7 linked regions of the Homo sapiens genome follow. The protein of the gene in region 1 purifies or fractionates together with the protein of each later gene. This does not show direct contact. Each region holds a gene or a part of one and is shown in the gene's direction. Other genes may lie near its edges. The genes, in order: PRDM14, SLMAP, DSC1, CTTNBP2, STRN, CTTNBP2NL and STRIP2.

What was found.
Region 2: the proteins of PRDM14 (region 1) and SLMAP purify together in Homo sapiens (affinity purification with mass spectrometry; 2 studies listed by BioGRID and IntAct, with this or other methods). This does not show direct contact.
Region 3: the proteins of PRDM14 (region 1) and DSC1 purify together in Homo sapiens (affinity purification with mass spectrometry, with the first as the bait; one large-scale study listed by BioGRID). This does not show direct contact.
Region 4: the proteins of PRDM14 (region 1) and CTTNBP2 purify together in Homo sapiens (affinity purification with mass spectrometry; 2 studies listed by BioGRID and IntAct, with this or other methods). This does not show direct contact.
Region 5: the proteins of PRDM14 (region 1) and STRN purify together in Homo sapiens (affinity purification with mass spectrometry; 2 studies listed by BioGRID and IntAct, with this or other methods). This does not show direct contact.
Region 6: the proteins of PRDM14 (region 1) and CTTNBP2NL purify together in Homo sapiens (affinity purification with mass spectrometry; 2 studies listed by BioGRID and IntAct, with this or other methods). This does not show direct contact.
Region 7: the proteins of PRDM14 (region 1) and STRIP2 purify together in Homo sapiens (affinity purification with mass spectrometry; 2 studies listed by BioGRID and IntAct, with this or other methods). This does not show direct contact.

The regions. Positions count from the first base shown.
Region 1 is NC_000008.11:70,064,753-70,068,252, reverse strand, and holds part of PRDM14 (PR domain zinc finger protein 14), read left to right. Parts: coding exon 1-23; intron 24-1,747; coding exon 1,748-2,018; intron 2,019-3,500. UniProt on the Homo sapiens protein: Transcription factor that has both positive and negative roles on transcription. Required for the maintenance of embryonic stem cell identity and the reacquisition of pluripotency in somatic cells.
Region 2 is NC_000003.12:57,909,809-57,913,308, forward strand, and holds part of SLMAP (sarcolemmal membrane-associated protein), read left to right. Parts: intron 1-2,078; exon of another isoform or gene 2,079-2,113; intron 2,114-2,330; coding exon of another isoform or gene 2,331-2,383; exon of another isoform or gene 2,384-2,572; coding exon 2,573-2,893; intron 2,894-3,349; coding exon 3,350-3,467; coding exon of another isoform or gene 3,468-3,500. UniProt on the Homo sapiens protein: Associates with the striatin-interacting phosphatase and kinase (STRIPAK) core complex, forming the extended (SIKE1:SLMAP)STRIPAK complex.
Region 3 is NC_000018.10:31,131,857-31,135,356, reverse strand, and holds part of DSC1 (desmocollin-1 isoform Dsc1a preproprotein), read left to right. Parts: intron 1-572; coding exon 573-785; intron 786-1,226; coding exon 1,227-1,466; intron 1,467-2,667; coding exon 2,668-2,789; intron 2,790-3,500. UniProt on the Homo sapiens protein: A component of desmosome cell-cell junctions which are required for positive regulation of cellular adhesion.
Region 4 is NC_000007.14:117,726,942-117,730,441, reverse strand, and holds part of CTTNBP2 (cortactin-binding protein 2), read left to right. Parts: intron 1-416; exon of another isoform or gene 417-702; intron 703-789; exon of another isoform or gene 790-1,011; intron 1,012-2,174; coding exon 2,175-2,353; intron 2,354-3,500. UniProt on the Homo sapiens protein: Regulates the dendritic spine distribution of CTTN/cortactin in hippocampal neurons, and thus controls dendritic spinogenesis and dendritic spine maintenance.
Region 5 is NC_000002.12:36,851,537-36,855,036, reverse strand, and holds part of STRN (striatin), read left to right. Parts: intron 1-3,500. UniProt on the Homo sapiens protein: Calmodulin-binding scaffolding protein which is the center of the striatin-interacting phosphatase and kinase (STRIPAK) complexes.
Region 6 is NC_000001.11:112,451,714-112,455,213, forward strand, and holds part of CTTNBP2NL (CTTNBP2 N-terminal-like protein), read left to right. Parts: intron 1-2,735; coding exon 2,736-2,843; intron 2,844-3,500. UniProt on the Homo sapiens protein: Regulates lamellipodial actin dynamics in a CTTN-dependent manner. Associates with core striatin-interacting phosphatase and kinase (STRIPAK) complex to form CTTNBP2NL-STRIPAK complexes.
Region 7 is NC_000007.14:129,454,932-129,458,431, forward strand, and holds part of STRIP2 (striatin-interacting protein 2), read left to right. Parts: intron 1-312; coding exon 313-440; intron 441-1,507; coding exon 1,508-1,711; intron 1,712-1,768; exon of another isoform or gene 1,769-2,081; intron 2,082-2,891; exon of another isoform or gene 2,892-3,151; coding exon of another isoform or gene 3,152-3,283; coding exon 3,284-3,500. UniProt on the Homo sapiens protein: Plays a role in the regulation of cell morphology and cytoskeletal organization. Required in the control of cell shape. Calmodulin-binding scaffolding protein which is the center of the striatin-interacting phosphatase and kinase (STRIPAK) complexes.

The DNA.
Region 1 (3,500 bases):
GAGACAATTCTGTGATGTGGGAGGTAAATCTGTTTCTGGTGGGTCTGCTGCTGAAAATGGGGCGGGAGACTAGTCCGGGGAAATCTTGGCCTTTGCCCTTTTGGGAGAGTCCTGGTCAGAGAGAGAGGACATCCAGGGCAGATATCTGTGGTTTGTGTTGCCTGTAAAAGGAAGGAACGGCCAGTGTTTGCTCCATGAGGATAGCACCTCTGCATGAATTCTGTGTTTTGTGGGTGCCTTAAGTCATTTTAGTCTGGAAGATTAGCAATGGAATATACATTTAAAGAATCAATATGTTGTATTATATTTATAGACAAAACTAAATGCTTTAGATATTATAGAGTGCTGAAACTATGCTAAAGAGAATAAAAACAAGTTTTAAAATTCAATATTATTCACCTATAAAATTAGTCAAGGATTAAAAAAAAAATAACCAGATACTCTTCAAGATCTAGTGATGATATATTAGGGATATGCTAGTGGGACTGCAGTTTATTACCTGCAGGAGAAAATTTGTCAGAATGTATCAGATACCTTAAAATGTTCAAAGTCCCTTGACCCTGAATTTCTACTTCTAGGAATATAGTACAGGAAAATAATCTGAAATTGAGGCTATGTGGAATATGTTAATCCTAGGGTTGTTTATAATAACAAAATGTTGGAGACAGCGAAATTGCCAGCAGCAGAGAAAGAAGTAATCTTTCTTTGTTTTTTTTTTTTTGTTTTTTTTTTCTTGAGACGGAGTTTTTGTCTGTTACCCAGGTTGGAGTGCAGTGGCGTGATCTCAGCTCACTGTGACCTCCACCTCCTGGGTTCAAGCAATTCTCTTGCCTCAGTCTTCCGAGTAGCTAGGATTACAGGCATGTGCCACCATGCCCGGCTAATTTTTGTATTTTTAGTAGAGAGGGGTTTCACCATGTTGGCCAGGCTGGTCTCGAACTCCTGACCTCATGATCCGCCTGCTTTGGCCTCCCAAAGTGCGGGGATTACAGGTGTGAGCCACCAGGCCCGGCCTTGAAAGAAATAATCTATAGCTCCATTAATATGCATGAAACCTAACTGGGAGTAAAATATAAAACTATTCAGTTGTGTTTAAGTGGTGGAATTAAATAAAACCTTTTTGTTTCACTTACCTCTGCTTATGAAATTAACATGTGCTCACTATAGGAATTTGGGAAGCAAGAAAGTGATAAAAGTAAGAATCTTTTAGAATATGTCACATTAGGCAGGCTCAGTGGCTTACACCTGTAATTCTAGCACTTTAGGAGGCCAAGGTGGGAGGATCACTTGAACCCAGGAGTTTGAGGCCAGCCTAGGAAAGAGTGAGGCCCTGTCTCTACAAAAAATTTTTTTAAAAAAATTTGCCAGGCGTGATGGTGCATGCCTTTAGTTCCAGCTACTCAGGGGGCTAAGGTGGGAGGATCATTTGAGCCCAGGAATTCGAGGCTACTGTGACCTGTGATTGAGCCACTGCACTCCAGTCTGGGCAACAGAGTGAGACTCTGTCTCTGAAAAAAACAAACAAACCCAATATGTGACATTACCTAGAGAGGTGTCCTTAAACTAACAAATCTATGTTGGCATAAGTAAATTTATAAACTACTTGTAATGACATAAAAATCAGAATGATAGAAGTGTATTTGGTGGACTCAAGTGTGATATTTAGGTTACAAGTATTAAAAAATTTATTTTATAGATTAGACCAAAAAAGAAGTACAATACAAACTTCATGTCTTATTTCATTTAGATCTTTGAAGATGGTCATTTGAGCCACTTTATAGATGGAAAAGGAGGTACGGGGAACTGGATGTCCTATGTCAACTGTGCCCGCTTCCCCAAGGAGCAGAACCTAGTTGCTGTGCAGTGTCAAGGGCATATATTTTATGAGAGCTGCAAAGAGATCCATCAGAACCAAGAGCTCCTTGTGTGGTATGGAGACTGCTATGAGAAATTTCTGGATATTCCTGTGAGCCTTCAGGTCACAGAGCCGGGGAAGCAGCCATCTGGGCCCTCTGAAGGTGAGTGCACACCCTCGCCTTGCCCAATGAGGGCATCCCAGTAGAAGGACTGGGCTCTTTTCCACAAACCCTCCATGCACAGCTCCTCCCTCCTAAAGGCTAATGCAGAGGACTAACCGAGAGTGTCTCTAACCAGGGGGGAATTACCCAGGTGAAGGAAAGCATCCTCAATTTCCCAAAGCTGCGGAAGCTACTCCTATTTATAAAGATATATACTCCTATTTATAAAGACTTGTTCTTCTTCCCTACCTTCCACCCCAAGAGTAAAAGAAAACGTACTAAATGGATGTAACTTCTACCATAGGTGAGCCAGTTTCTGATTCATCTCTGCCCAGGCTAATGTAGCTGAAGTCTAATCACTAGAGCAGTGTTTTTCAAATGGTGGGTTGCAGAGTTGCATGTCTTAGTGGGGTGGGAAATCAATTTAGTGGTCAAGACCCACATTAAAAAAAAAAAAAAGTATAGAGTAGAATAGAAAATATTGATGGGAATCCCTTAAGAGTAAGGATTGTTTTGTGAAATTTCTATTTCACATGGGTATATGTGGGTATGGTGGGTGTCAAGCATAAAATACATTGCCTACTATGGGTCTCAGGCAAGTTTGAGAAATACTGAGCTGGACTCTCACTCTCAAACTTTAATGTGGGAATGAATACCCAGGGATCTTCATGATGCTGGTTCTCATTCAGGGTAGGGGCCCAGGATTTGGTATTTTTATCAACTTGCAGGGAGTGCTGCTGGTCCTGGTCCCTGGTCCACATTCCAGTAGCAAGGGGCGAGGGAACCACCAGCCCACTCTAGGGGTGAGACTTTGGAATTTGCATGTTAAATAAGCTCTCCAAGTGATTTCTATATACACTGAAGTTTAGGAACTACTAATCTAGTAGGTGGGACAAGATAAATGTAAATTCCTGTAAATAAGAGAGAAGGCAGGCCGGATACTGTGGCTCACACCTGTAATCTCAGCACTTTTGGAGGCGGAGATGGGCGGATCACTTGAGGTCAGGACTTCAAGACTAGCCTGGCCAACATGGTAAAACCTCATCTCAGGTCGGGCACAGTGGCTCACGCCTCTAATCCCAGCACTTTGGGATGCCGAAATGGGCAGATCACCAGGTCAGGAGATCAAGACCATCCTGGCTAACGTGGTGAAAACCCGTCTCTACTAAAAATACAAAAAATTAGCGGGGCGTAGTGGCACACACCTGTAGTTCCAGCTACTCAGGAGGCTGAGGCAGGAGAATCATTTGAACCCAGGAGACAGAGGTTGCAATATGCCAAGACCGCACCACTGCACTCCAGCCTGGGCAACAGAGTAAGACTCCGTCTCCAAAAAAAAAAAAAGAGAGAGAGAGAAGGCAAATTATTATGATGTAATAAATGTGTAAGGAGCAGGTTTAAAAAAAAAATGGCCCAGGCGTGGTGGCCCACGCCTGTAATCCCAGCACTTTGGGAGGTGAGGCGGGCGGATCACGAGGTCAG
Region 2 (3,500 bases), on another chromosome or scaffold:
TCCATGTTGGTCAGGCTGATCTCAAACTCCCAACCTCAGGTGATCCACCAATCTTGGCCTCCCAAAGTGCTGGGATTACAGGTGTGAGCCACTGCGCCTGGCCTATTTTTTTTTTTTTTTTAAAGAAAATTCAAGGGAAGATTGTCCAGTACTCTCGTATTAGACACTTAGAATGGAAAAAGCAGAGGTGAAGATTTGGAGTTGGTAAGACTGTCACTTTCTGAGTTATGTCGTGAGTTCCTACAGAGGGCCTTTGGATAGGAAATCTGTTTGAGCTACTCTGCGTCAGCACTTTGAGCTTGCTGGTATATGTATATATTGATGGCTGGTGTAGATATATTGCCATCTAATGCTCAGAACACACTTGTATTGCAAGAAAATATTTTTTTGCTTGTTTTTTTGAGACATAGTCTTGCTCTGTTGCCCAGGCTGGAGTGCAGTGGTGATCTTGGCTCACTACAACCTCCGTCTCCCGAGTTCAAGTGATTCTGGAGCCTCCCAAGTAGCTGGGACTACAGGTGCATGCCACCATGCCCAGCTAATTTTTGTATTTTTAGCAGAGATGGGGTTTCACTATATTGGCCAGGCTGGTCTCAAACTCCTGACCTCGTGATCCACCCACCTTGGCCTCCCAAAGTGCAGAGATTACAGGCATGAGCCACTGCACCTGGCCTCAAGAAAAATTATATATCACGTGGAATAGGATAGTAGTCTCTGCACTGATTTTCGTTGATAATGGCTGTTCTTCTTATCACCATTTTGCTATTTCTTTGTCTGGGCTATTACAGGGTTATTACAGAAATTTCCAGAAAGACCCCTGCCTGTCGAATGTTTACTTCAAGCTTGAGCTCCTGGTATATTATGAGGAAATTATATGATACCCCAGGAGAGGTCTTCCTTTCCCATGCCATTGTAAAATTCCTAAAGTAAAATTAATTTGCCTTCTTGTCAAAGAAGGAGCCAATGTTGTTTTAAAATTTTAGCTTGAGAGATAGGTGGGGAAGAAATTAAATAGACAAGTAATCACTATTCAGAAGAGAAGGGAGAGTCATTGTACGAGGCCCAAGATACTTGCCCAAAAATATCGCAGAGAAAAACTAGTCTTTGGGGTCCTATTTTTTGAGTGGAACATTTGAGTTATTTAAAATTAGAATTTTATTTTGGTCAGATTAGAATTTCTAGGGTATGTCATATGTGTTTTTAAATTGAAAGCTCTTAAAACTCCTATTGTAGTTTAATGTCATTATCCATTAATTTACATAAATCTGATTTGGATCTCTATTTTCATCGTAGACTGTGTAGGGGCAATTTTTCCTAAAGGTTCTGTGACATAGTGCTACCTTTTTTTTAAAACCTGTCTTGCCCAGGCATTATTGAGTGCCCCCTGGTGCCAGCATGTGTATTTCACGACTGTATCAACAAATCATGATCATCTTCTCTGGCCATTGTGCCCTTTCAGATTCCAAACTTGTTACCTCTCAGTCCTTCCTACAAACTTAGAAAGTCTAATATCTTAATGTTTACTTATGTAGCAACCTCCCTTTCTCCCATCCCTAAATCCTCTTGTAATTAATTATTTTCCTTTGGAACTTTTTAAATCTACAATTTCCTTATAATATGGTAACCAATATTAATTTTCTTGTTCTGCGCCAAGTTTGATTTTATACAAATTGTTTCCAGTTTGGGTCATGAGCACAAAACCAGGTATTTTTAAAAATCTATATAACCCTTCAATGAGGCAGTATTAATTTTATTAACTCATTAATTCAACCAATAATTCTTGATTGTTTACTGTGTTAGATATTGGGGTATCCCCAATACCTGACAGCTGTGAGCAAAACAAATGCCCTACACACATGAGGTGTACAGTCCAGTAGAAAAGATAAACAATAAGCAAATTAATAGATAATATGATGTCCAATAAGGACTTCAAAGGAAAATAAAGCAGAGTAAAGAGCCAGAGAATGACAGTGAGCTGTTTTTCACATGAGTCATCAGAAAAGGCCTCTTTAAAGAATTGACATTTGAACAGAAAAACGAATCAAGGGCGTCAACTGTTTATTGCTTTTATTGCTTACCATTTGACCAAGCAATTCTACACATAGGATTCACCCTAAAAAAAAAAAAAAAAAAAAAAAAAAGGATTGTATATAGTGTTTAAACACTGAACAGCCTAAAATGTCAAAAATAAAGGGTTGGGCAAATAAGTTATATATACTATAACTATTTTTTTGTTGAAAGAGTTTCATCAACAGAAGGATAGGGAACACTGCATTTATTGTGATCACTCCCTATTTAATGTTTGTTTTTACATGTTTATAAATGCATAGGAAAAAATCCAGAAGGAATATCAGAAGTAATTTTCTGTGTGTTGGGGAGATGAAGATCACTTTGGTTTTTTTTTCCTCTTTGCTATCTGTATTTTGACGCTTTCTGCATCAAACGTGGATTGTTTATACACTTTAATCAAAAGCAACAGCTCTGACAACCCAGGTTATGCATTAGCTACAATCCTGTATGGATTATTCTTTTATTCTAATGGGCCAAGAAAATGATGGATATACTTTTGCAGCCCAATTGCAGAGGTTACACATCGATACTGAGAATCTCCGGGAGGAGAAGGACAGTGAAATCACAAGTACTAGAGATGAATTGCTTAGTGCCCGAGATGAAATTTTGCTCCTTCATCAAGCAGCAGCAAAGGTTGCCTCTGAGCGGGACACTGACATTGCTTCTTTACAAGAAGAGCTTAAGAAGGTGAGAGCTGAGCTTGAGCGGTGGCGGAAAGCAGCGTCTGAATATGAGAAAGAAATCACAAGTCTGCAAAACAGTTTTCAGCTTAGATGTCAACAGTGTGAGGACCAGCAGAGAGAAGAAGCAACAAGGTTGCAAGGTGAATAAATGTATTTTACATAAAGCTGTTAACTTTTGACAATGATAACTTCTTAACTTGTTTAAAAAAGAAACATGCAGGCTTTTTTTTTCTTTGTTAGCTATCAGTTGTATAAACCAATGTTTTTAAATCGGAGCTAAAAATGTATTTTCAGGTCTGCAAGTTCTACTTAAATTTATATTTTTTTACGGTTTTATATTTTATTTTAAAATTGTTAAAAATTGCTTGTCTTATAAAAGTGAAGTGGAAAAAAATACTATTGTTCAAGTACAAGCTGATAGCAGTCCTTGAGGTATACATGCAAAGTAACAGGAATCATATAATTAACCATGTAAAATCTACTTGCTTTTAAGGGGGCAAAAAGTATGTTCTCCTCTGAAATCTTTTCCTTTATCCTTTGAAGTATTATGGAAGTTATATTTCTGTATTAACAAATATGTTTTGGGACTATTTTAGGTGAACTAGAGAAGTTGAGAAAGGAATGGAATGCATTGGAAACCGAATGCCATTCTCTAAAAAGGGAAAATGTTTTGCTATCATCAGAACTGCAACGGCAAGAAAAAGAATTGCACAAGTATGCAAGAACTCTCTGTTTTTCAGATATAAA
Region 3 (3,500 bases), on another chromosome or scaffold:
TCTGTGGAAGTCACGAGTTTCATGAGGACGTGACATTTAAGTAGATTCTTGAAGATAATAGTGTGCTATCTGGCAAAGAAGAGGAGAAAAGTATTCCTAGGAGTGGCAACCGAATGCTACAAAGCAGACAGGAAGGGGAACACTTAGTGCATTTCTAGAGAAGTTTTCAAGGTTTGGGAAAAAAGTATATGATGCAATGGAGAAGCTGAGAAAGTGACTGACAACCAAATGTAAAGTGTTTGTATTCTAAGGATGAATATATGCGCTTCATAAAGAAGGATGTAAGACATCTGTTTTATTTTCAACAGGTCATTCTGTAGTGACCTTCCTCATAATCTCATACCTTTTAGTTTTGAAAAGCATCTGAAGAAATTATCTGATCCAGCCCTAGTCTTCAAAGAAAAGTGACATGTCCCTATTTTGTAGTCTTGGTGTCTGAAATCTGGGAAGCATGTATGCGAACTCAAGCTCAGACAGCTAGTAGAAAGCAGATGTCAACTGTGTATTTTATAAATTGTTGAAAATAAATGCATTTTCATGTGAAGAAATAACCTATTTTTAATTAATCTTAGTTGGCCGATCTTGCACTGGAACATTAGTAGTTCATTTGGATGATTACAACGATCACGCACCTCAAATTGACAAAGAAGTGACCATTTGTCAGAATAATGAGGATTTTGCTGTTCTGAAACCTGTAGATCCAGATGGACCTGAAAATGGACCACCTTTTCAATTCTTTCTGGATAATTCTGCCAGTAAAAACTGGAACATAGAAGAAAAGGATGGTATGTAATCATGCTAAATTTTATAGTCAATACGGACTTCAGATTGGTGATGGTTCTTTCACCTTAGTTTATCATAATAAATACACATTTATTTTAGGAAATTATTTTATTAACCCTAAAAACAACAATACCTAATCTTTAAAAAAAATTAGTGCCATTGTGATGAGCTTAGACTCTTGTTCTGAATATCTTTTAAGAAAACATATAAGTCCCTTTTTAATTAACATTTGAGCAACATGTTAAGTACAGATTAGTTTAATATCAGCATAAAGCAACATCAATTACTTTTCTGGCTCTTCTGGGAAATCACAAATTCAAAAAAAAAAAGAAAAATTCGAGTTTTTATTCTAAATTGATTCCCTTCCACTGAGAATATTGAGTAGGAATAATACTGCCATCTAAACAGCCAATCCATATATATTCTGTCTTTTTTTTCCCTAGGTAAAACTGCCATTCTTCGTCAACGGCAAAATCTTGATTATAACTATTATTCTGTGCCTATTCAAATAAAAGACAGGCATGGTTTAGTTGCAACACATATGTTAACAGTGAGAGTATGTGACTGTTCAACTCCATCTGAGTGTAGAATGAAGGATAAAAGTACAAGAGACGTTAGACCAAATGTAATACTTGGAAGATGGGCTATTCTTGCTATGGTGTTGGGTTCTGTATTGTTATTATGTAAGTATATTAAGTATCATTATCTAGAATGTGTTAGCTAAAATTTTATCTAGTATTTTTAAAACATGGAAGTTTTTTATATTAATAGCCTTTGGGAAGTGTGTTCTTTTAAAAATATTGTATCTATTTTATGTCTTGGGGCTCTGAGTGATAAATGTATCAGTAACAGCAGATTAAATTTAAAGTCAGTTTCAGAGGTGGTAGCCTTAGTTCTTCAATAATTATCTGTGAGACATTGGGTAAATTATTTCCTCCTTTTTGAACTCATTTTTCCATGTGTAAAATGAAGAGGCTGGGTAAAACTATTAAGATTCCCTCCATGTAAAATAATATAGTCTTTCAACCAGCCATGTTTATGTAGGGAATACATACATACAAAAAGAATTTGTGAAAACAGAGCTATTCCAAAATTTACTCAGATATTTCTGTTCCATATTATTAATGAAGTGATTTAGCATCATCGTAAGACTTCCGTGAGTGAAAAATGGTCATATGAGCCACTGAGGAAAAGCAATACAGGCAAAGGATGCTAAGATTTTGCATTGTGCAAACTGTTATTTGGAGGTACAAAAGTAATAGAAATATTGCCCACGCTTAATTAAGACTGCCTTTTTCTCTTTCTTTCTTTCTGTTTCTCTCTTCTTTTCCTTTTCTTTTTCTTTCTCTCTCCCTCTGACCCCAAAGAACCCATTTGCATTTACAAACTTTTCCTATAATCTTTACTGTATCCTAATTCATTGATTTGAGTTTCAGATTAAATTGGATATTCCTCTTAGCACTTTATTAGTTGATGTACATTTTTGAAACCAGACACCAATTTTATGTAATTGCCTTTCTTGTTTGTATTTATGCCTAATGTTCTTAGTCTTGTTATTTTAAGCCCTTTAAGTGTGTTCTGTATGATTTTAACTACTAATGATGCTATCTTAAATATCAGTTAGATGAAGTTACCATTTCAATGTAGAAGAAATAAAAGACACATATAAGTTAATTCTGGACCTGGGAAGAGAGCTATTATTAATCTCTCTAAGCTACAAATAGTATAAATACATTTTTAAAATATTCTGTTTTTAAATCTTGTGACCTGAAGAGCTCAATTTGTGGAATGAATTTTTTGAGACATATGCAAGAAGACTTTAAAAAATCATGTAATCAAATGATTTAATGTCTGTGTTTTACTTTGATCTTTTTTGCTTTTTAGGTATTCTGTTTACATGTTTCTGTGTCACTGCTAAGAGAACAGTCAAGAAATGTTTTCCAGAAGACATAGCCCAGCAAAATTTAATTGTATCAAATACTGAAGGACCTGGAGAAGAAGTAACGGTAAATCAGATTTCACATCCCTTTGAATTGTACGGTGAACAAATGATGACAGATTATTACTCAACAATGTCAATGATAATATCACTAATGTTTATTGAGCACTTACTATGCTAAGCAGAGTTTCAAGTGCCCTCAGTGTTTTAAATCATTTAAACCTCCCAATTCTACAGGGCTAGGGCTGTCACAACAAACTGAGTGACTTAAACAACAGACAAGTATTGTTTCACAGATCTGGAGACTAGAAATCAGAGATCAAGGTGTTGGCAGGTCCGTGCTCCCTCTGAAGGAACTGGGGAGGGATCTGTTCCAGGACTCTCTCCTAGCTTCTGCCAATTCCCTGGCTTATGGCAGTGGAAATCAAATCTTCATATGGCGATTCTCCATGTGTGCATGTCTGTGTCCAAATTTCCCCTTTTTATAAGGATACTGATTATATTCGCTTAGGGACCCACTCTAATCCCATATAACCTCATCTTAGCTAATTACATCTACAATGACCCTATTTCCAAATAAGTTCACATTCTGAGTTACTGAGGGTTAGGGCATATGAATTTTTAGGGGACTCAATTCAACCCATCACACCTATGATACTATTATTCTGATTTTATGTATGAGGAACAGAGAGGCACAGCAGGCAAGTGATTTGCCTATGGTGAAAAAAAATGAAAATGAATTGTTAGTTTCCATTTTTCAAATTCACTTTATCACTCT
Region 4 (3,500 bases), on another chromosome or scaffold:
TCTGATTCTGTCCGACTTCATGGGTACAACACTCAAATCATGCTAATTAAACAGGTGGCTAATATGTGCTGTGAAAGAAACAGGTAAGGTACCACTATAGAAACTCGGGCGGAAGTTGGGAAGAGTACTTATTTTAGGAATTTGGGGTGGAGGCCTCTCTATCTGTGGTCACATTGAAGGATTTGCAGGTCATGCTAATTTGTTATGTCAAGGAAGAAGGGTTTGCTGAGAATAGGGAAGCAGGGGGTCTGGGCAGAAGGAGCAGCACTTGCAACACATCTCAGGCCTAGGGAGGAGGAGGTTGGCATGTGGAAAACTCAGGGACAACTACGTGGCCTTGAAGTCATTCGTTCAGGGGACATACTAGGTGGGGGATCAGATCCAGCACCTTGAATTAGTAACAGTTACATAGACTGTTTACTTGTAGAAGCCTGTCATTTATTCATCCCTTTTGTTATTTGCAAACATCAGCATCCATTTTGACCGCTCCTCCACAGTTCCTTCCCTCTTCCATATTTGGGACACTCTTCCCACCTCCCCTCACCAATACCATGTCCTGGACATCCTGTGAGAGACCCAGCTGAAGTCCCCACCTCATCTATTTGTCTTTCTTGACCACGCTGTATTTAGTCAGTTCTTCTTTTGAATTACCATAGCAGCTTGTGTCTGTCTGTACTTCAAGACTGCCAGTCTGGAAGGGATCTGAAAGATAAAGGGCCTGGCTCAATTTCCTCATTTTTCCAGCTGGTAAAATTCAAAAGAAAAAAAAAAGGAAGGCAATTGCAGTACCTGGTGGGTGGCTTTCTCCACTCCATCAAACCGCACCAGAACTGACCACTTGCTCTTCATTAGCTTTTCACACCTTTTCTTTTGTTTCCTCTGTATTTCATGAGTACACTAACTTACATGGATTTTTTTCTTCTTAGCAGCAATAACAAATAGGCATAGAATACATAGTAGGCATACACACCTCTATGCAAAATTATCCATTAACACTGAAGGAATGTATCTCTGGGGAAGGAAATAAAAACATGTGGTTACTAGAAAGTCTATTTATTGGATAGACCTTTTAATGAAACACCAGTTTTTAATGTACTGTCCGATAACCACTTTTCCCATAATACAGCCAACTTGCAAAAGGAGAAATTTCATATAAACAACATCTGCACTTTGGAGAGAGGTGGACACCCTTCCTGTTTGTTCAGGTCCTTAGGAAAGACAGATTACATTCTGCCTTTGGGTACTGTGAAATGTGATTCCGTTACGATGTCTAACAGTCTGAGCTTTAGAAGCAGTTTATTAGACAGTCATTAAGAGAATAATTCAGTCCTCCCAGAAAAAGTAACGTTTCCCTGGGGACCGAGTTACAATGAGAGCTCTACCCTCCTTCTCCCTTCCTCTACATGTGGTCTTGATGAGGCAGCTGGGGAGATCCCTGTCCCTCTGTCAGCTGCCCACAAAGCTAAGCCTGTTCTTTCAGCCCTGGCTGACGGTAGAAAGTGAGGCTTAAACAGAGAGCTTCAGAAATGTTAAGCCTGAGGAAGAAGAGGAAGTTCTTTAGCTTAATAGTGATTACTGAATTCCTTTTAAATGTGATAAATGACTCCTTTATTATTTCAGCGAGATGCTGTATCCTATTTTTCTATTAAAGATAAGCCCTATGTAGTTAATGTATACTTGCAGATTGCTGAGAGTAGATCTTAAATAAAAATAAGTATGTAAAGGGATGGATATGTTAGTCAGCTTAATTTAATAATTTCACAATGTATACATCAAAACATCATGATATATACCACAAATATATATAATTTTTGTCAATTATACCTTAATAAAAAATATAAATAGACTCTAGCCCTGGCTTTGCCACTATTACCTGTGGGACCTTGGGCGAGTTATTTTTTCTTCCTGCCTCAGGCTCCTGATATGTAAAATGGGGTAAAAATGCCTAACTCAGGCTCATGGTGAGAATTAAAGGAGAAAAATGCTTATCACACTAACACGTTTGCACAACTATAGTATGTGTTATTATCCCTCCTTCAGCCATCCCAAGTAAAGTTAAATAAGATTCAGCTACTTTTCAATTTTGATTTAAAGTTTTATATTTTTAATTTTGGGCTTCTAAAAACAAAATGTTCTAAACCAAGCCCCTGGGTTCCACCTCCCTGTCTCTCTAGTTCAAAGGTCAGGCGCCCTCCCCCTGCGATCCTGTGTGCAAGATTGTCGACTGGGCTCTGTCCGTCTGGCGTCAGCTTAACTCCTGCCTGGCCCGCTTGGGCACACCTGAAGCACTTCTTGGACCAAAATATTTCCTGTCTTGTCCTGTAGTTCCTGGGCATGCCCAAGTGACAGTGAAGTAAGTGCCATTTTTCCTTATCTTTCTGCTTATGATAGAGACGTGGCCAATTCAGATGTTTGAGGGTGAGAATGCTGACCAGGCTGCCTTGTGCCACCTCCTGTCACTGACACGGAGTGCCAGTGCTCTCTGCTCTTTCAGAGGATGGCCACAGCTTGCCTACTGTGTGCTTCCTAGGGCAGCTGCATTTTTGCTGAGAGCTAGGTTTTTCCTCTATTAGAAAATTCTCATCCAAGTTATGTTTGGCTTGCTATGCAGAGTCTCCTGAGTGAGGTACCACATAAGAAGTTTCATCAAGTATTGTATGCACACCCTCCAAAAAACCTGCATTCTGTTAATGAATTGAAAAGCTTTCCCTTTATTGAGACATATGTTCAGTACTTACTGTTTTCCTTTGAAGCATCTTATGAGAACAGACATATATACAATAAGGTTAATGAAATAGAAAATCAGGAGAAAGTTGAAATGAGAAAAAATTTGTTACCATCCAGTTTAGTAATGGTTCTGTGACCAGCAAGCAGATTTGATTCTATAGTTTCTGGTGCCATGGGCAGAAGTCTATTTTGGAAAGCAGGGGATAGAAATAATATCTTCTTAGCTGGATGTAGTGGTTCATGCCTATAATCCCATCATTGGGAAGTTGAGAGGGGAGGATCACTTGAGGCCAGGAGTTAAAGGTCAGCCCAGGCAACGTAGTGAGACCCCATCTCTATTTAAAAAAAAAAATTAGCCAGGCATAGTGGCATGTACCTGTAGTCCCAGCTATTGAGTTGGGAGGCTGAGGCAGGAGGATCAATTGAGCCCAGGAGGTCAAGACTGCAGTGAGCTTTGATTAAGCCACCGAACTCCAGCCTGAGTATTAGAGCAAGACCCTGTCTCTAAAAAGTATATGTATATTTTCTCTATTGTAAGACAAACCACCATTTTTATAACAGCTAATTGGTGGGAAAGAAGTACTATATTAAATATATATTTAGAATTTTGCTACAAAATAAATACACTTATTGATATAATTACCACTTTCTTCATTATTATGTCAGTTAAATTAAAGTCTTTTTTACATCCAGAGTCTCAAGATTCTTAGGAATCATTTTTGACCTCTCCTATATGGAATATAGTCTTTGTCAAGAATTATGGAGGTCCCAAG
Region 5 (3,500 bases), on another chromosome or scaffold:
TTTATGTACATTTATAACTATACTGTTTGAAATAGCATTTGAGCTGTTATGGGTCAAGTTTTATTTTATACTAAATGATTAATTTTCAATTCTATTTGAAGAAAGCCATATTTATTCTGAATAGGAAATTCTATTTTTCATTTCTCGTAATTTCATATTTTAAATCAACTTAATTTTATATTAATAGTATGATTTGGTACAGCTCAATACAGATCATGTTGTGGCACTCAGAATTCCAAACCTGAAGCTTCTTATTGGATGCAGGAAGTCAGGAAATAAGTGCTTTTTCAGGTTATGAAGAAGATATTACAGACTCTTTTTTGGTTTTTGGCTTTCTTAACCATTGCTTTCTGTCGTTAGCCATAATCTAGACAATCACAGTTTAGGTTGCAGTTGATGAAGAATACGACATACATATACTCTTGTTTTAATCTGAGAACTAGCTTTAAAAGTGATGATATGTTGTGTGTGTGCACATGCATGTGTGAACATGTACATGCATATGTTTACATATGTTCTTGTGGTGTTCTCACTCTCTGTCTCTCTCTCTCTCAAAAAGTTTCTTTATTCCTTTGTGGTTTTCATCATTTTCCCTTCCTAACCTGTTGTTCATTGTTTTCTTCTGATATGCTGAGACTTGTTTGGGGAAGTAAGCATGAATAGAACTTTGAGCTACTTGGATGTAAACGAGAGAGACAGGAAAATAAATTAAACTCAGGTGATAGAATTGGAAAAGGAGAATTTTTTTCAGCAAGAAATTACAGGTTTTAGACTCTCAATAAATTTAAAATCATGTTTAAATATATGACTCAAAGCTACAGTAGCAAAATAAAAAACTAATATGAAATTAGAAAGGATGAGAACATTTTTGTAATTACCTTCAGAGATTATATGGCCAATTTGTGAACATCCTGAGTGGAAATAGTGCTTTTTAATGACTGCAGGTTAATAAGATGTCAAGTCTGGTAGATAAGATGGATAAAGAGAACTAGGCGAGTGAATCCACATTTTCCCCCAAGAGATGTGACTCTAAATTAATAGGACTTTTTACTTGACACTGGAAACATTTTGAGAAAACTTCCAAGAATGTTTTTAACAAAGGCAACATTACTGGAATAAATGATCATTATTTTGAGTTGTAATATGTCCTGACATTTTCTAAATTATGTTTTTTACTTTTAAAGTTGTATAAAGAAAACTTAAATTAGTCTCTTATTATGTTTTACTGTGAACTACCCCTTGTTATTTATAATTGATTGTGTTGTTCTGTTTTGGAATTTAGCATATTTTTTTAAAAAAATGAAAGGACCAAACAAGCTTCAAGGAGAAAGTGAGTTTTATATAGAGTTTAAAGTGATGAAGGATGTTTGTTAGAATAGGAATAAATTACCCTTCTTCTCATTGATGTCAATGGCGATTTGACTGTGGTAAAGTCAAAGGTAGTTGAAGCAGATACGTCACAAGCTAGGTATGAGTAGTGTTCTTTGCATTCTGCCGACTTCTCTGATTTATCATCAAGTGGAGAAGCTTCCTTAAAAGTGTTACCAAATAAGAACTTTCTTTTGCCTGTTTCCATGATTTGATTTCAATCATATTTATTTTCTAGCTCTCAAAGCAATTGAGGCTATTCTCTGAAACGTCTCTCTCAGAATATATGGGATATTTCACTTAAAGTATTTCTTTTTTTGTTGTTACTGTTATTCTCTTGCTGGACTTTACCACGGGTGTTGCTCAATGGAGTATTATCTGTGGAGGAAATAATGCGTAGTCTGAATTTTATAAATAAACATCTCTTTGTTTAGGATCTAAACCAGGTGTAACTGACTAAGAACTTACTCCACATGGTCAAGTGAGTTTTTGTTTTATATTTATTTTTTTTTGAGACAGAGTCTCGCTCTGTTGCCCAGGCTGGAGTGCAGTGGTGCGATCTCAGCTTACTGCAACCTCCACCTCCTGGGCTCAAGCGATTCTCCTGCCTCAGCCTCCCAAGTAGCTGGGACCACAGGCGTGTGCCACCATATCTGGTTCATTTTTGTATTTTGCGTAGAGACAGAGTTTCACCATGTTGGCCAGGCTGGTCTCGAACTCCTGACCTCAAGTGATCCGCCTGCCTCGGCCTCCTAAAGTGCTGCGATTACAGGTGTGAGCTACCGTGCCCAGCCACATTTTATATTTAAATAACAGGCTGGGTAATTACCTGCCACTAGCATTGGGAAAAGACTGTCTTCAGTTTTTAAGATGTTATATTTCTAGGAGCCACATGAAAATCCTGTAAGATTAGACTATTTTTAGCTGTATTTTCTATTATGTGAATATAAACTTGTAATACCTATTCTAGGGTTCAAAAAATTTTTTAAACTCTATTTTGAAATAATTTTAAACTTGCAGAAAAGGTACAAAAATAGTACGAGAACTTCTGGCTACCCTTCACACATATTTAGCAGTTTTTAACATTTTGTCACATTTGCTTTTTCACTCTATATATGTGTATAATTTTTAATTCTGAACCATATGAGAGACGTCATGCTCCTATTCCCCTAGATCCTTTAGCGTGTAATTCTAAGATCAAGGGCATTCTCTGATGTAGTGTATTACAATGATCAAAATCCGGAAACTTAACATTGACACAATACTATTATCTGAATTACTATTTATATTCAAATTTTGAGAGTTGTTCCAGTAATATATTTTACAAGGACACCCCTTCCTCTCCCTGGACCATAATTTAATTTTTAAAACTTTGACATACCTTCAATTAGTGTTTTCTTTATGTCAGTTTTTCTTTTCTCTTAAAAAAAGCTTAACAGAAATCACTGAGGTTTTAAATTACTGATTTCTTTTTAATAAAAGCCTTTCAGGAAGAATGTGTGATCATTTAGGAACCAATTTTGACAGTTGTGTGATCTGCATGAACCATCAGGTTGGGAGAGAGTCAGAAGTTAGAATAGGTACTGATTTTGTCACCTGATTGTGGAGGAGTCACAACTTTTTCTGAACCTTGATGTGTTCACTGTAATATAGGCTTAATGATATGTGCTTGCCTGTCTCATTGTGTGTATAATTGAAGTTTCTTTGGAACTTACTAACACAAAAAATACAGTTAGGATGCTGACTTTTAGGATTCCAAACCTAGTTCTGTCAAATGACCATTTCTATTATGATGAGGAAGAGTGATAAAGGGATTTAAGGATTAAGAAGCCCTCTTTGTCATATATATCTTTAGATGATAATGATGTGATACAGAACTTTGTATGCAAAAAGAGCTGAGATTTAAATTTGAGAATTATCTCCATGTAAGTGATGATAGAACTTACTTAAAGTAGCAAAATCTCACAGAACATTGTAGAATGAACAGCGTTAGTGGCTCTAGACTAAGCCATAGATGGCACCCACATATAGCAGGAAATTGTAATTTATAAATATTTCCAGATTTATCAGGCAATTCTCTTTCCTAACATTGAAATTTTGAAAACAGTCACAGAATAAATGAACTAAAGACA
Region 6 (3,500 bases), on another chromosome or scaffold:
GAGCTGAGATCACACCACTGTAATCCAGCTTGGGTGACAGAGCAAGACTGTCTCAAAAAAAAAAAAAAAAACACAAAACAAACAAACAAAAAAACAGGCTTTGAGCCAGTTCTCCTGTTTTCTATTCTACATTTCACCTCTCCTCTGCAGTACCTGCCACCTCCAGGTTCCATCTCTTTGGGGCTCTGCAAGGCAAAACAGCTTCCCTCCTTCAAAGTAAAGTAGTTACCACAACTCCAGCCTCTTTTCTTCTTCAAAATATTATTAAAATTTTTTCTCTGCTAGAGGCTCTCTCCTTTGTGGGGTTTTAGTCTTTTTATTCCATTTCTGTAATTTTTGAGGACTCCCAAAAGGGAGAAGATAAGACTTACCACTTTTGGCCAAAAGCATGTCTTTCTATTAAATTGAAAAATTAGATTAAAAAAAGGAAATGTGCCAAATTTTTTTTCTTTCATTTATTTTGAGAGACAGGGTCTCGCTGTGTTGCCTGGGCGGGAGTACAGTGGCTATTAACAGGTGCGATCATAGCACCCTATAGCCTGGAACTCTTGGGCTCCAGTGATCCACCTCAGCCTCCCTAGTATCTGGGACTACAAGCATACACCACAGCACCAGTCTCTTCTTTTTTTTTTTTTTTTTTTTTTTTTTTAGACAGAGTTTCACTCTTGTTGCTCAGGCTGGAGTGCAATGGCACAATCTTGGCTCACCACAACCTCTGCCTACTGGGTTCAAGCGATTCTCCTGCCTCAGCCTCCCGAGTAGCTGGGATTACAGGCATGTGCCACCATGCCTGGCTAATTTTGTATTTTTAGTAGAGACAGGGTTTCTCCATGTTGGTCAGGCTGGTCTCGAACTCCCAACCTCAGGTGATCCACCTGCTTTGGCCTCCCAAAGTGCTGAGATTACAGGCATGAGCCACCACTCCTGGCCTCTTTTTTTTTTTTTGAGACAAAGTCTCACTCCGTTGCCTGGGCTGGAGTGCAACGGCATAATCATGGCTCACTGCAACCTCGACCTCCCTGGGCTGAGGTGATCCTTCCACCTCAGCCTCCTGAGTAGCTGGGACTACATGCACACCTCACCATGCCTGGCTAATTTTTGTACTTTTTTGTAGAAATGGGGTTTTGGGTTGGGCACAGTGGGTCACACCTGTAATCCCATCACTTTGGGAAGCTGAGGCAGAAGGACCACTTGAGTCCAGGTGTTTGAGACCAGCCTGGGCAACATGGCGACACCCCATTTCTACAAAAAATCAGCAGGCCATAGTGGTGTATGCCTGTAGTCTCAGCTGCTCAGGAGGCTGAGGTGGGAGGATCACTTGAGCCTAGGAGGCAAAGATTGCAGTGAGCCGAGATGATGCCACTGCATTTCAGCTTGGGTGAGAGTAAGACCCTGTCTCCTCAAAAGGAAGGAAGGGGGTGGGGGAGGGAGAGGGAGAGGGAGAAATAAATGGCTGGTCTCAAACTCCTGTGCTCAAGCAATCCTCCTGCCTCTGCCTCCCAAAAGTGCTGGGATTACAGGCATGAGCTCATTTTTATTTTTATAGACAGGTTTCATGTCCCAGAAAATTTACTCTCTTCACTCATAAAAATTTTTAGTGAGAAGACTAAGAAATGGCCTTTGGGACAAGAGTGCTCTACCCTGGAGGTCTGGGCCAAGGCACTTCTGAAGCATGAGCAGAAGCTACTAAGCAATCAGAATATTTGCAGTTGTAGATGGGATTATGTGAAAAATGTCTCTTTAAATTTGTATTCTTGGCCATGTGTGATGGCTCACACCTGTAATCCCAGCATTTTGGGAGGCTGAGGCGGGTGGATCACTTGAGCCCAGGAGTTCCAGACCAGCCTGGGCAAGATGGCAAAACCCCATCTCTACAAAAAATACTAAAATCAGCTGGGCGTGGTGGCGCACACCTGTAGTCCCAGCTACTTGGGAGGCTGAGAGGTGGGAGAATCTCTTGAGCTCGGGAGGCCAAGGCAGCAGTGAGCCATGATTGCACTACTACAGTCCAGCCTGGGTGACAAAGCAAGACCCTGTCTCGAAAAATAAATATATTTGTCTTCTCCTTAAAATTGGGCTTAATCCTTTGGCACCAGGGTAAGTGAAATAGGGGTAGGCAAGTTAAATAAAAGGGCGTATGAAAAATCTCCATTTAAGGTCTCTATATTTGAGCCTTTTTACATGCAGTAGGAAGTCAAGAGAGTCTATCCACCTCTTATCTAACTATATAAAAATGTATATTATTAGTTAAACAAGGCACACTTAGAATGTCACCTATTTGAAATGTTGAATTTCAGGCTCCTTCTTTGGTGCCTCTGGTGATTTGAGAATTGAGAAGAAAATCTCAGCTTTCAGGTTTCTGTGGTCCTGTCTTGCTCCATCACCTACACCTGGCCCCTAGTAACACCAAACTGCCTGCAGTTTCTTGGAATTTCTGTTAATTCTCGACACCTCCTCAACCCCTCTAGCTAATTAGTTGCTCTCTTCTCTCTGTTTGCATATCATTCTCTACATACTTCAAGTAAAGTAAGTATCTTACTGTTTAACACAGAGCTTTCATGTCTTTCACTGTAAGGCAGTGTGCTCCTTGATAGCCCTTGCTGGGTTTCATTTATTCGTTTGTTTGTTTGATCTCTGGAACTATCTAAGGTGCCTGATTTGGCACTTATTATTGGTTGTATTAATAAATGTGACTCCTTGATATTTGAAAATGAAATTTAAAAAATTCTTTAAAGGTGATCCTAGACCTTGAGGAAGAAAGGCAGCGGCATGCACAGGATACGGCTGAAGGAGATGATGTCACCTACATGCTAGAGAAGGAAAGAGAGAGGCTGACTCAACAGGTAATTAAGGTAGAGGGATTCACAGTAGCATTTGCCTGGAACAGCATTTCCCAAAGATTATTCTGCAGGATGCCAACTGGTATTGTTCAGAAAAGGGGCTTTGTGGTCAAATAAGTTTAGGAACTACTGGATTAAGCAAAGTTAAACAGGTTTCTAACTTTGTTAGGATCTTTAGTATGCAGAAGCACATTGTGAGTCTTCAAGAACAAGATAGGGTATTCTGTGTTTAGCAAATCCATGGTTTTATAAAATCTTTTATTGGCATAGATCCCTCACTGTGGGATTATTATTGTTCCGTAGAACACTCTTTGGGGAATGGTAACTTAGCGCTTGTAGCTCTCAAACTTTTGACTTAGAACCCCCAGTAAGAAGTGACATTTTATGTCACAACCCAGTATATGTAGACATACACAGTTACGCCTGAAACAAAAATCTCATGAAATCATATATAACCCCTACTGCTACAGTACACATTGATGTTTTCTGTTTATATATTTTTTTAAAATTCTAGTCGTGGCTCAGTTAGTTTCCCCATCCATTAATGGATCTCAGAGTTTGAAAAACACTGAGTTTCTTCAACCCTTTCCCTCTCACGCAGAGTCTCTGCCTCAAATAGGGTTGGGAAGACAATTAAAACAGGCTATATTTGTGTAAAAA
Region 7 (3,500 bases), on another chromosome or scaffold:
GTGGAAAAGTGAATGACATTGAGTCCTTTAGCCAGAAAGCAATGTCTTCATTATTGTTACTTCTAGTTTGGCATCCAACCCCAAAGCGTCACCCTAAGCTCTGGGGCCTATGCCATTTTAATTCCATGGCGTCCCTTCCTGCCCTTGAGGGGCTTCCTTCTGGGGGCTAAGCCTCCTTCTCAGGACCAAGTACTCTGGTATTCTTCAGGGGAGGTGAGTGCCTTCCTGTGTGTGTCCAGAATCAGGGTTACATGAAAAAGGTTTTAGCTGCCTCATCCTCACTTTCTCACTCCCCTCTCTCCTCACCCCTAGGCTTCTCCATGCATAATGAGGAGCCTTTTGCCCTTTTACTCTTCTCCATGGTTACCAAGTTCTGCAGTGGCCTGGCTCCTCACTTCCCCATAAAGAAGGTCCTGCTCCTGCTCTGGAAGGTGGTCATGGTGAGTAATTCTCCCCACTCCCACATTATCAGATCAGCAATGCCCTATGCCACCTCAGTTTCTTCTAGTCTCATTCCAGGAGGCTGGATCCAGGGAGCAGAACAGGCAGCCCTTAGCCAACTGCTAATATGGAGGGGCAACAAGGCTGTCCTAGAGACATCAGATGTTCTATGTTAGAATGGGTTTCATGTTTCTATTGGATGGATGGGAGATGCCACTCCATAAATTGGGGATGTCAGTGGTACCTTCTCTTATTAAAGCCAATGTTTGATGGAGAGAACACTGGTTGAAAGTTGGTAGATCTGGGCTTTGCTGATACTGAGAAACTTTGGGCAACTCTCTGTGCCTCAATTTCTCTAGCTGTAAAAGGTTGGGGTGAGTGCCTGCCCTCCCTCCAGATAAACAGAGGTTTTGTATTTTTTTTTTAATAAAAATAATTTTTTCTTACAGACAGGCCTCCCTGTGTTGCCTGGGCTGGTCTTGAACTCCTGGTCTCAAGCAATCCTTTCACCTTGGCTTCCCAAAATGTTGGGATTACAGGCATGAGCCATTGTGCCTGGCCAGGATTTGCTTTTTAAAAAATAATGAAGTTCTTATAAATATGTGGTTACATTTCTGTTACTAGTTATTCAACCTGATCCTTCATTTTTGGCTCCCATCTCACAAGGCAGGCCTAATAGGGGGAACTGCCTCTTGACTGCAGAGGAAATTGAGTGACTCTGGGGGTTTATAGCACCTGGATGGTGTTCCTTAAAAAAGTCGATAGTTTCTTTTTTTTCTTTTTTTTTTTTTTTGAGGAGGCCCGCAGGAATTCCTTTCCTAAATTCTGTGATATTTCCCATACTGGGGCAGTAAATAATGCCTTATCCTGACCCCTGAGCTCCTCAGTTGCCGTGGGGATGGTAATCATATTTGCCTCTTTATGTTTTACTACCTCCTTATTAAGGAAAAGGTCTGAAGGGACTGGAGGTTGTGGCCCTTTCTTTTCATCCATGTTTCCCTGACCTTGGCTCTCTCTTACTTCCCTTCCTTCCTCTCTCTCTGCCCCTTTCCTGTTTCTTCCTTAGTTTACCCTCGGTGGATTTGAGCATCTGCAGACTCTCAAAGTACAGAAGCGGGCAGAATTGGGCCTGCCTCCACTGGCTGAAGACAGTATCCAGGTGGTGAAGAGCATGCGTGCTGCCTCCCCGCCCTCTTACACTCTTGACCTGGGAGAGTCTCAGCTGGCACCCCCACCCTCCAAGCTGCGAGGCCGCCGTGGCTCTCGAAGGGTATGGACTGAAGCAGACAATGGTATTGGGACACCGACTGGCCAAAAATCAAGATTCTAAGTTACTCTGGGTGTGGTAGGAAAAAGCAGTAAATGACCCGGCTCATCCTGCCCAGGTTGGCCCTATGACCAACCTGAAATCTTAGGGTCTCTAGTTTGGCCTCTGTCCCCCAGCCCTGACAGCCCCCTGCGCTGTTGTGATGTGACACTGTGATATCATGTCATATATAGCCATGTCTTGCTACAGAATCATTGGCCTGGACCTCAGTGCCTGGAGTTCCTTACATTCTGAATAACAATTAAGGGTATAATCCTGGGGATAGGGACCCAGGATACCGGAACAGGTCTCCAAGCAAATCCATTTTTCTGGGGTAAGGCATTTTACTATTTTGAAGCACCAGGAAGTTTTACTGTCAGCCAGCCACACTCTTAACTGGCCCTGGAACCAAAGGCTTACATTTAAGAGATGACTGGGTAGGGGTCTATGTATATAACCATGTGACACTAAACGACAGGGATACAATCTGAAAAATGTGTCATTATGCAATTTTGTCACTGAGCAAACATCATAGAGTGTACTTACACAAACCCAGATGGTATAGCCTACTGCACACCTAGGCATATAGCCTATTGTTCCTAGACTACAAACCTGTACAGCAGGTTACTATACCGAACACCATATGCAATTGTAACCCAATGGTGTTTGTGTATCTCAACCTAGAAAAGGCCAATAAAAATACAGTATTATAATCTTATGGGTCCACAATTACATATGCAGTCCATTGTTGACTGAAGCATCGTTGTGCAGCACATGACTATAGTCTGCTGTCCTGAAAAGGTCAGAATGAAAAGTTATACTGAGATCTGACTATGTTCTTACAAACTCCCCTGCCTGACCCACTTCAGTTTATCAACAGGGCTAGATAGTAGTGCTCAGTAATCCAGTCTCCATTATCTGCAATAAAATTTTTTAACTTTATTTTTGTTTTATAAAGTAATGCTTACTCATTGTAGAAAATTTGGAACAAATATAAAAATGTGATGAAGGGAGAAAAGAAAAATCACCCACAATCTTAACAACCAGAGACAGTCACTGTTAACTTTTTGGCCTATTTCTGTCCAATCTTTTTTTCTTTGTCACAAGATTTAAAATTCCAAACTTGCTTCCCTCTGCCTAGCAGCAAGCTTCTGTCCTCCTCTTCCTCAGTCAGCCAGCTGGTGTATGCTCACAGAAGGCAAACTAATTGAATGTTCACCTAAGCAGAGCATAATTAGGAAGGAAAGTGCTGGCAAAAAAAGGCATCACTGCTTTCTGAAAGCTAAGTAATTGTGACTTTGGGATTATCTATGCTATGTTCCCTGGCTAATGGCAGGGTTACCTGAGAACTTCTTGTCCTGTTATTGGGCCGGGTGGGGACAGTAGGTTAAGGTGGGGAATTGGATGTTTTCGCAAGGGCTGTGTTCAGATTCCATGTTCCCTGAAATGTGGAGGCCTGTGGATATGGGGTGGCCTCAGACAAGGATGCCCAGAGTGAGATCTCTGCATGCCTACCCTCCCTTCTTTCCCCTCCAGCAACTCCTCACTAAGCAGGACAGCCTGGACATCTACAATGAAAGGGATCTCTTCAAGACTGAGGAGCCCGCCACAGAGGAGGAAGAGGAGTCTGCTGGTGATGGAGAACGAACCTTGGATGGAGAGCTAGACCTGCTAGAGCAGGACCCTCTGGTGCCACCTCCACCCTCACAGGCACCCCTCTCTGCTGAGCGGGTGGCTTTTCCCAAGGGCCTGC